Regions from separate parts of the Homo sapiens genome. Here region 2 is linked to region 1. The links come from fine-mapping of genetic effects on plasma protein levels. Region 1 holds a variant in brackets. A gene starts in the other region. All regions are shown on their reverse strands.

What was found. PIP is the posterior inclusion probability: the model's chance that the variant is causal. The UK Biobank Pharma Proteomics Project read protein levels with antibody pairs (Olink). The fine-mapping took linkage between variants from a reference panel, not from the people measured, so its PIPs are less certain.
Region 2: PPY starts here. The variant in region 1 is fine-mapped to the plasma level of the PPY protein (UK Biobank, PIP above 0.99).

The regions. Positions count from the first base shown.
Region 1 is chr10:48,159,808-48,165,181 of GRCh38, reverse strand. FRMPD2 (FERM and PDZ domain containing 2) reads left to right here. Exons shown (of 29, transcript NM_001018071.4): 28 at 1,511-1,854. Among named protein-coding and RNA genes, the nearest start is that of FRMPD2, 110 kb to the left of the region's middle. The variant T/C (reference allele first, on the strand shown) is at 3,135.
Region 2 is chr17:43,938,190-43,943,499 of GRCh38, reverse strand. PPY (pancreatic polypeptide) reads left to right here and starts at 1,024. Exons shown (of 4, transcript NM_002722.5): 1 at 1,024-1,079; 2 at 1,846-2,036; 3 at 2,286-2,357; 4 at 2,548-2,696. The coding sequence starts at 1,846. The coding sequence ends at 2,572. It overlaps LINC01976 (long intergenic non-protein coding RNA 1976), which reads right to left and starts at 5,239. Exons shown (of 2, transcript NR_136406.1): 1 at 5,103-5,239; 2 at 4,538-4,939. RefSeq lists an enhancer at 4,953-5,310.

The DNA of each region.
Region 1 (5,374 bases):
TGGATTAAGGACACAGAGAAAGATTATGTGGAAGTCTTGACTGCCCATTTGACATCTGCAGTCACACACTTGAAGCTAATCTAGTCAGAGGCTCAGAAGCAGGGGTGAGGTTCACACAGTTTGAGTAGGAATTAAAATGGAAACTCAGAATCTGCAAGTGACACGTGATGGAGGAAGAGAGGGGCAAGGAGGTGGGAGCTCAGGGTCTTCCTTGTCTGTAAGTGAGCATCTAGGGGCAGAGCCATGGAATCTAAGCAGAATAAGAGGCACACCGAGGACATGTGTGACAGGGAAGGGGAGTGGGGGTAATGATGAAAAGCAGCAGCTCCACAGACTGGAGGTCTTGGAGTGGGGAAGGATTGCTGGAGAGCATGTCCAGGGATAATGAGCTAGAAGGAGAGGATAGGTTAGAAAACAGATTTTGGAGGTCTCTCCAAAGAGTATGAAAATGTGACAAAATATGGTCTTCTTAAAATTTTGATTTTTGGTGTATCCTTTATAATGTCCAGCCTATCAGAAGAGTAGTAAATGTTTATGATTTATAATTAAATAAATGTGCACATTTGGAGGTGTATCCCTCTCATTGTTAGGGATGTACAATCAGAAATGTGGGGAGACCACTCATTGGGGTGGTTCTTCTTTTGTAGGTGAGGGCAGGGGTGGGAACCCAGGCATGGGCTCTATTACATCAGGTATGGAGATCATGGGGTGGAAGTGCTGGAAGATAATTTTCAGGAAAAGGTAAAATCATGATTCCTACAGATATAAAAATGAACACATGTTAAAGATTTTATTTAACTCATTCAGTGAGGGAACCAGGCAGATGTTAAAACTGGCTCAAAAGAGATTTCAAAGGACCTGTTTATTTATAGAGTTGTAAAATAGCTCAAAGACAGTGGAGACAGCCAGAATCAGAGAACCCAGCAGGTTCTGCTGTAGATAAAAACAGTTTTCTACTGAAACACAGATTGTTTTTCTGTAGAAGGTCAAGCAGTGGCAGCAAGACATAGCACATCATCAAAACCAGAACCTAAAAGGCTGACAGGGAGGTGAGCAGTTGAGACGAAGCAAGTCATGTCTGGGAAAGTGAGGAGGAGACCCAGGAAAGAACATCACCTTGATGGGGGTGGAGACAGGGAGACAAGCCCTGAGATGACAGATGAAGATGAAAAACTTAAAAAGAAAACATTTCTTATCGGAGAGTGGAATAGAGTCATTGTTTTGCATATTTATCTTCCATTTTTATCTTTGTCTAAATTTTGCAAATATTTTTTATTTAAAAATAAGGCTCACATTTATGGAGAGCTTCCAAAGCCAAGGTGCCTGAGTGTGTTGCCCAGTGTCCAGCCGGGAGCATGTGGAGGAGCTGGGATGCTATGGTGATAGACAGACCTCAAAGCCCATCTTGTAACTACTCTGATCTATAATCACATGGGGGAAAAAAGCTTTGTATTTTTAAAAAAACAATGTGCATCCCGCAGCCAGTAATCAGTAGCATTTCTTTTAATAGACACCTGAACTCTCAGCTGACAAAGAATTCACCAGGGCAACATGTACTGACTCATGTACCAGCCCCATCCTGGATCAAGAGGACAGCTGGAGGGACAGTGCCTCCCCAGATGCAGGGGAAGGCCTGGGTCTCAGGCCAGAGTCTTCCCAAAAGGCCATCAGAGAGGCACAATGGGGCCAAAACAGAGAGAGACCTTGGGCCAGTTCCTTGACACATTCTCCTGAGTCCCACCCTCATTTATGCAAACTTCACCAAGAAAGGGATGAATCAACATTGGCGACCTCTTTGGAAAAGGATGTGAGGCAAAACTGCTATTCAGTTTGTGATATCATGAGACTTGGAAGGTAAGAATCACCACATTTGCAGACATTTTGTAAACTGTGTGCATCTCATTGCTAGGAAATTGTAATCAAGCCATCAATAACTATGCTTGGATGATTTTGTGCCCAGCACTGTTCCAGGCATTTAGAAGAGAGGTTGCAACAAGAGAAGCATAAAGTCTGGTGCTGCTGTGACCACCTGTGAGCTTTTGGGAAAGCAAACCCTACCCAGACCACAATTGTCCCCAATATGTCTTGGAAGCTATAGGTGGCAGGCCTCAGGTTTTCTCCTGGCACACAAACCTTTCTCTTGTATCTTCCATGGCCTGTTAAAGCTTTGTAGTAAGAAGGAAGTTCCTACATGCATCCTCGTTTCTATTGCTAGTATAATGCTTTATTATCAACATCAGCTTTTTTTTTTTTTTTTTTTTTTAAAGATGGGGTCTTACTATGTTGCCCAGGCTGAATTCAAAATCCTGGGCTCAAGTGATCCTCCCACCTCAGCCGGTCAATAGCTGGGTCTACAGGCACCAGCCATCATGCCTGGCTACACCAGCTTTTGTTTTCTGAACACATCTATATCTTCAAGACCACCCTGCAACATTCATTTTCACAGTCATTTTAAATTTAGTCTGCATTTTTGTGTCCATCCATCTGTAAGTATTTCCGATTCTCAGTCCTATGCTGAGGGAACACATAGTCTTTGATTCAGTTTGACAAGTACTTATTACACAAGGTGCTTGGAAACCTGTTGGGAGCAGACAGAGGGCTGCACATGTAGGGTAAGACCTGCTTCTAGCATTTGCCAGCCAGAGGCATGGGCACAAAGCAGGTAAATAACAAGGGGCAATTGTTTGTGTTTGACACTCTATAAACCCACTGAGATTAAATGGCTCTCATTTGGTAGCCATCCTAGACGACTGTCAAAGGTAGATCCATAGGAAATGATAGTCTCTGTGAAGTGTGAAGCAGTCGTGTAATACCGTTGGACCCGATGAGAGCTGTGACAAGCAGGAGCCAGGCATGCATTCCCTAAAAGTACCCTGCTACAATTTTTTGAAGAATGCTGTGTCAGCCAAACAAAAGCTAACTGGTTTGCAAAGTAGAACAGGGTGAACAAGCACATTCATCAATGATATTCACTTTCGTTGTCTGATAATGTATAACATAAGTGTATTTATAGTTCTTTACAATTGCAGTCTAGGCAGTAATTGACATACTTGATAAAATAATAAAGAAAGTAACCTACAGAGACTTGTCCAAGGACAACTACTACCATGATCTTAAAGGACATATTAAAGGAA[T/C]GGTACTTTCCTGTAGGGAGGAGGCACTTGTTTGGATATTGAAAGGTTTTGCTGCCAGATAGCTTGGGATAATGAACAGGGACCCTGAGAGCTGAATTATAAAGTGACCCTGGGTATAGGTACAAGCTGGGAATTTGACTTGCCAAGTGCCTTTAATTTAATATAGCCAATAGTTATTTAAAATGGTATTTTAAACTATTAGTATAGGCAGTCACTGTTTCATTCATTAAACGACAGAAAATCAGCCTGTTCAATATAAAAATGATCTAGTCTAGCCTCAAACTCCATGCTGGAATCTGCTCCATAACATTCCTGAAGAAGGGGTCCCAGCTTTTGCTTGAATATCTGCAGGGATGCAGAACTTGCTACCTCTTGAATGACCCATTTTATCATCATCTAGTTACTGATCAGAAGGTTCTTCCTTATATTAAGGTGAAATCTTTATGCTGTTATGCTGTTCTTATGGGGCCAGCATTTAAAGTTACACATTTTGCATACAGCATGGCTCATAAATTCAAGCCTCCTAACTTCATCTGAAGCTCAACCAAAGAAAAAGTGATTTGCTCCCACATCTTCCACATCTTTATGCCTCTTTATGTCTTCTACTTCCAAGTCCGGATACCTATTTCTGCCTATCTGTTAGCATTTGCTGTTTTTTTTTTGCATCAAACATCACATTATTCTGTTTTTCTGAACCAAATTAAATTTGGCTTAGTGGCCCTATTTGCAAGGGTATACCAGATGTCCAAAATCTGTCATTCTTGGAGGGACTGCTCCTTTTAGAGCCACACGAGAGTCCCAAGGGCTTGTCCAGAGCATTCCAGGGGAGTCTCCTATCTTCAGTCTGTTGTGAACGCCCATCAACCATCATACTCACTGCCGGGCCCACATGGTCCATGTACCCATGGATGAACTGTGGGCAGGCAGCTTTACTGTTCTCAGTATCCTGGCTCTCTCAATGGCCAACCGCACCCCCTTTTTCTCTTGCCTCCCTGTGGTAGTTCTGTTGATGAATGCTTTCTGCCTCATCACATTTCCTGGCTTTATTTTTACTTCGTTTTCCCTCCCTCACTTAGGAACCTTTCCTCCCCTCTGAAAGAACTCAAACCAAGTCCACCTCTCCTCCAATAGGACGTCAGTTTGCATTTAATGCACACATAGTGGCTGCCCCCTACAGGAAGAAAAGAGGGGCGCATGCCCAGCGACCCCTGGACACAGTTCCCCCAGCTCCTGGATAGGGTCTGAATCAGGATTCCAAAGTGGGATTGTGACTCTGCAGAAGCCTTAGAAGTGTTTGCAGCTCAGTTCTGAGGTGACTGTCGCAGGCCACTGCCTCTTAAGTGTCTGGCATCTGTGAGTTAAACTCTTCAACAAAAAGAGCATGGATTTCTGTATCCTATTATGTGGTTTCAGCGTTGCCACTTACTAGTATGCCTGGAGCATTGCCTTCCCTAAGCTGGAGGCTTCCCAAATGTAAATGGGGACCATGACAGTTCCACAGGGTACTGTGCAGGTCAAAAGAAATAGCACGCTCAGGGTGCTGTCACAGTGCCTGGCATGCGGCAAGAACTCAATGCAAGTCTGTTTTCCTTCCCTTTCCTGAGCTATTTCCAGCTAAAGAACAGGTCCCTTCAATTGAAATTCCCAGCAAATTGCCGGAACTTACCATCTGCCAGGTGGCAACTTCCTACAGCCAGATGGCTGCCAGCACCACAGCAAATCCAAAGTGTTCATGGACAAGATTCGATTTCACTTTCTTTCCCTGTTCTCTTTTCTCACACTCTATATCTAGAGATTTTACCGTCTAGTAGTAGATCTTTATAAAAATATCTTGTAATAAAGCAGTACAGTACATTTTTATGAAGGAGAGTTGGATTACGTGCCTATCAGAGGGAAAGCTTGGCTGGAGTCATGTTTTTTATAAGGTTAGTTCCTAAAGGTAGGCAGAAGGCAACAATCACATCAAGTCTCATTACCCTTGAAACATCACTTTGGAAGGAGTGATGTTATTTGCCCCTTGGTGTGGGAGCAAATCACTTTTTGTTTGGTCGAGCCTCAGATGAAGTTAGGAGGCTTGCATTTATGGGCCATGCTGTATGCAAAATGTTTGTCTTTAAATGCTGGCCCAATAGAAACAGAGACAGATTGAGAGGATGAAAGATTTAGTTCTCCCACTCATGTGCACTTCAAGGCTTACACTTATCGGTTGGAAAGTTGGTCTTTGCAGAATGTTTAAGGTT
Region 2 (5,310 bases), not on the chromosome of region 1:
TGAGAATCTAAGCCAGAATTCGGAACCTCGGTAGCTATGAGATCTTGAGCAAGCGTCTTTACCTCTGTGAGCCTCAGGTTTCTCAGCCAAAAAGTGGGAAATTATAACAATACTTTGACGGCCCCACTTAGGAAAAAAAACAGTCCAGGTTTGGAGTTAAATTTTGGGGTCTGACTGGCTGTGGGGTTTGGGGCCAGTGATTTGACATCTCTGAGCAGATTTCAGATCCTGAATCTGTAAAATGGGTTGTTGTGGGGATTTAGTGAGGTGACTGAGCTGGCAGCACTTTGGAAAATGTGAGGCTTTACAAATGAAGCTGGTTTTTAGCACTTCCCTGGAATGGGGGCTCTGAGATGGGGAGGGAAATGGATACTGGAAACCGGCACCCCCCTCAACATTTCCCCTGAACCCAGGCACATGAGTTCTCATTCTGCATCCTATGCACCCACCAAATGGGTTTCTCCAAGCCTGGCACCCCACTCCTTTCCACCTTGCCTGAGGACCTGAGGCCCCTTCCCTCTTCCCACCTTGTTCTAGTTGCAAGCTGCAGAGGATGGCCTGAGTTTCCATTCTTCAGCCTGGAGGCTCTGGCTGTAGCCTCAGTCTTCCAGCTGCAGCCTCAATCTTCTGCCCCAAGAGAATCCGTTGGATGATTTGGGTTGATCTTTGGGAGGCAGGAGAGCTAGTTCCAAGGCCTGTGACCAAAACCTTTCAGTCACTCTCGAGTCCCAGAACCCCATCTTTCTTGAACCAAGCCTGCTCTGGTGCCCAAAGGGAAGGGGTGTCAGTGATGGGGGCCCACAGGAGACTTTTACTGTGGTCCAGTTTTATCTGTTATGCTGCTGGTCTGGCACCCACAGAACTGCCCTGTCCCCCTCCCGTCTCTGGCCTCAGTACTGGCGTTGCCAGTATGAGGAGACAGTGAGAGGAGGGGTGAGGGCTTCGGAGTGAGAGAGGCTGACAGGAGGCGGGGACTCTGGGGGGCTGAGGACTATAAAGCGGCCCAGCCGAGGGCAGGGGCCCATCCGGCCTGAGGCAGGTGCTCGCTTGGTCTAGTGCCCATTTACTCTGGACTCCGGGTAAGTGGGCTCAGCCTGCCTGGGGCTCTGGGGGCCTCCCCCAGGCTGGGGCCTGGGATGGAGAGGAGGTGGTGCTTTGCAGGGCCAGGGGCCTTGGGAGGCCTAAGGTCCTGCTTGGGTCTTGCTTTCTGCATCTGGACAGACCTGTCACGCTAGAAGAGCCGTCTGCTGACTGCACGTGTGTGTGCACACTCGTGTGCATGGCTGTGAACTGGAATGTGTGACTGTGACCTTGTGAGTGACTGGGGTCCCTGTGTGAGTGCCTTTGCTGGTCTGTGCAGGACGACATGGACAGTAGCGTCTTCTCCAGGACCGATATCTGTGTCTCTATCGCAGGGTGGAGGGCCAGACCCACAAGGCCATGGATTTCTGTCCTTGGCTTCCCGAGTTCATTCTGTGTCCCCCACCCTGTGGGTGACCTGGCATGCCCTTATTCCCACTAGCTGCTGCCTCCTGGGAGCCATGAGGCCCTGGATGTCATGAGTCCCGTGTCTCCAGGACTCACATCCCCATTTTCTCTGCTATACTTTTCTAACTTGCGAGGCCCTGGCTTGCTGGGCTGCTCACAGGACAGGCTGTCCGTGCCTTCAGAGCAGTGTCTAGGAGGTGGAGTGGCCAGCTTGGAGTGGCCCTTTGCTCTGCCCCCTTGTCCCCAGGCTTGGAGAAATGGATGATGGGCTAAGGGGCTGGATAGTTGGGCCCTGCTTCCTGGGCACGGGAAAATCTGCAGCCCGGGCTCTCCACCTCCCCTCTGCTTGCTCCTCAGATGGCTGCCGCACGCCTCTGCCTCTCCCTGCTGCTCCTGTCCACCTGCGTGGCTCTGTTACTACAGCCACTGCTGGGTGCCCAGGGAGCCCCACTGGAGCCAGTGTACCCAGGGGACAATGCCACACCAGAGCAGATGGCCCAGTATGCAGCTGATCTCCGTAGATACATCAACATGCTGACCAGGCCTAGGTGTGTGCCACAGTTGGGGAGAGAGATCCCAGCCCCTGGGACCCTGGGCCCACTCCACATTCCTGGCCACACCCTATCCCCAGCCCCAGCCCCAGCCCCTTCCAGGCCTGCTCTTGGGAAAACAGGGCATCTGTGCTCAACAGGCCTAGACCAATGTGCCCTGGGCAAGATGGTGCCTACAGGCAGATATGAAACAGGTGGGCTGGCACCTGGGCACAGTGCTTGCCCCTGCTGCCTCTTCCCTCCCAGGTATGGGAAAAGACACAAAGAGGACACGCTGGCCTTCTCGGAGTGGGGGTCCCCGCATGCTGCTGTCCCCAGGTGAGTTTGACTCCCTGCCCTGTCTGTCCAGCTCCCTGGAGCTGAAATGGGGGTGGTGGGACTGAATCAGGGCTTGGAAAGGTGTAGTGGGGGGTGGAAGAGGGAGAACAGGAGCCCAGGGCCAGCCTGAGGCCTCCTGAGGGCACGAGGCCTACCCCCTACACTGCCATGTTCTGCCCTGTCCTCACAGGGAGCTCAGCCCGCTGGACTTATAATGCCACCTTCTGTCTCCTACGACTCCATGAGCAGCGCCAGCCCAGCTCTCCCCTCTGCACCCTTGGCTCTGGCCAAAGCTTGCTCCCTGCTCCCACACAGGCTCAATAAAGCAAGTCAAAGCCACAGCCTGTCCTGTGTCTCTGTGGACCCCTGGTGGGGGCAGCAGGAAGTGCCAAATGCATGGGAGAGAAAGGGGAGGGCAGGGCAGGGCAGAGGAAAAGGGGATCATCCAGAACGTTGGCGGGGGTCATCAGAGTCACTCAACTCATCCTCTCCCCTTCGCAGAGGGAAAAGTGGTGGCCAGAGGAAGGCAGGGACTCCTCTGAGCAGATGGTCCTTCAGCAAGTCTGTGAAGTGGCAGTCTTGAATCTTCCCAGTTCAGTACCCATAGACCTTCCCGACACAGCCTGATGACAACCCTTCCCCAAGTGCACCCCTCACCAGTGCCTTACTGCAGCCTAGGCAGCAGAAGCACCAAAATTTATACGAAAGCACCCTTGGCATGGGGGCAGGGGCACAGCCCAGCCTGGAAGAACGATTCTGGTGCTATGGCAGTCATGGCTGCATCCAGGGGCCTGAGCTGCCGTCCAGAAATTTGGAGAGAATGGGCTGCCCTGAGAGGTAGTGAAGTCCTGGGCACAGGAGGTATTCAAGCTGCTGTGGAAGGGGAGGAGGCTAGATTAGCTGAGAGTTCCAGCCACCATGAGTTGAATCTGTAGATTGTACACTCCAGCCCTGGGAGGACAAGGACCTGGATCCTGCCCCAGGGAGGACTTCCCAGATTCCCAGAGAACCCATCTTTTCCTGGCCCTTCTCAGGCACCCTGAATAGGTGGGGACAGTGCGCGTGTGCATGCGTGTGTACGCGCATGTGTAAAGGGGAGAAGTGAGGGAACTAGAATGTTTCTGGTTCCTAGAAAGGCTTCTCCTGCCTCCCCCACATGCTTGGTCTCAAGGGATGGGGTTATGGGTTTGGAGGATGAGGGGTCCACTTTCCTGGGCTCAGCACCTTGCACAGAAATGGAAATGACACACAATTGTGTTTCCCCTCAAGTCCTACTCCATCTGGTGTGTGCAAATGACCTGGAAGTAGAAACAGGTCCTAAAAGGCAAAGAGCTTCTAGAGGATGCAGCTGCTTGGCTCAGATTGATTTTTTGTTTGTTTTTGGAGACAGGATCTTGCTCTGTCACCCAGGCTGGAGTACAGTGGCATGATCACAGCTCACCATAGCTTTGACCTCCTGGGCTCAAGCGATCCTCCTGCCTCAGCCTCCCAAACAGCTGGAACTACAGGCACATGCCACCACACCCAGCAAATTTTTTTATTTTTTAGAGACAGGGTCTTGCTATGTTGCCCAGCATGGTCTTAAACTCCTGGGCTCCAGCGATCTGCTCACCTCGGCCTCCCAAAATGCTGGGATTACAGGTGTGAGCCACTGTGCCCAGCCTCAGGTTGATTCTTAAATCCAAAGATGTCTGGATAGAGAGATGGTTTCGCAAAAGAACGGTTTGAGTCTGGGAGAGGGAGCCTGAAGTCCCAGCATTTTCTCTGGCAGCTTAAGGGGATGCGCGGTGAATGGGGAGAGGAGTCTGGGCTGTTTGGTAGAAACTTGAGCCAGGTGGGAGTTGGGGTGTGTCTAGCTGAAGCCCCTTCTTTGAGGTTTCTTCTCTCACCTCTGCTCTCCCTCTGGGTTAGAGCCCCCCACACTGGTGCTGTCTGTGCAGGACTACAGGGGCAATAAGTGTCTTCTCCAGGACCCGTATCTGTGTCTCTACCACGGGGTGGAGGGCCAGACCCACAAGGCCATGTGTGGGTGGAGTGGGGGAAGGTGGATGGGTTGCCAGGGGAGGCAGGGGAGGACCCCCAACAGCTGAGGTCTTTTTCTCTCACAGCAGAAACTACAGGGTCCCACTTCCCGTTCCATGGACTGGTCCCTCCCTGCCCGCAGGCCCACAGAAGTCACTGAAGCAACAAAAATTTGTCTTTATTGTTTTCACTGAGGGGATGAGGAGGGGTCGAGGCCCCTCTCAATACAAAGGGGTTGGTGGGCAGAGAGGCGTCTGGAGGCCAAGGCCCAGCCTGGAGAAAGAAGCCCCCCCCACAGGGGTGCTGTGTCTCCCCGCATGCCCGCCCCCAGGAACTTCCTCTCGCTAGCACCCAAGCTGCCCCCAGCCCCGAGGCCCCTGGCTCGGTGCCCAGCATCCAGGCTGTCCTACCTGGGGCCCCGGGAGGAGGTCGGTGGTCGGGGTTCCGAGGTGTTCAGCCACTGGGGGTTCGTGGTGGTCCATGGTGGGGGTTTCGTGGCTTTTGATGGGGAGGTGTCCGTGGCGTTCGCAGTTTTCTTGTGGTTTTTAGATTTCTTCGGGCTGGGAACAAGTCTTTGCAGTCATGAGGCCGCTCCCCGAGCCCAGCTCAGGCCGCGATGTGCGTGGGGGTGCCTGGTGGCGTCCGTGTCCCCCCCCCGCGCCCCCCCCACCCCCCGCTTTCCTCCCTCCCTCCCTCCCTTCCTCACACCCTCCGCCGGCCCACCTGCTGTTGAAGAGCTTCCCCAAGTACTTCTTGATGGAGCCTAAGTTCAGCCAACTGGCGGCCCTGGGCTGCGGCACTTGCAGCTCCTCGCCGAGGGCGCCCTCGGGCTGCATCAGCAGCGACACGAGGCCCGCTATGGCCAGAGCGAATGCGCAGCGCAGAGCAGGCGTCTGGAGGGGGCGGGGCAGACAGAGCCGCGGGAGGTCAC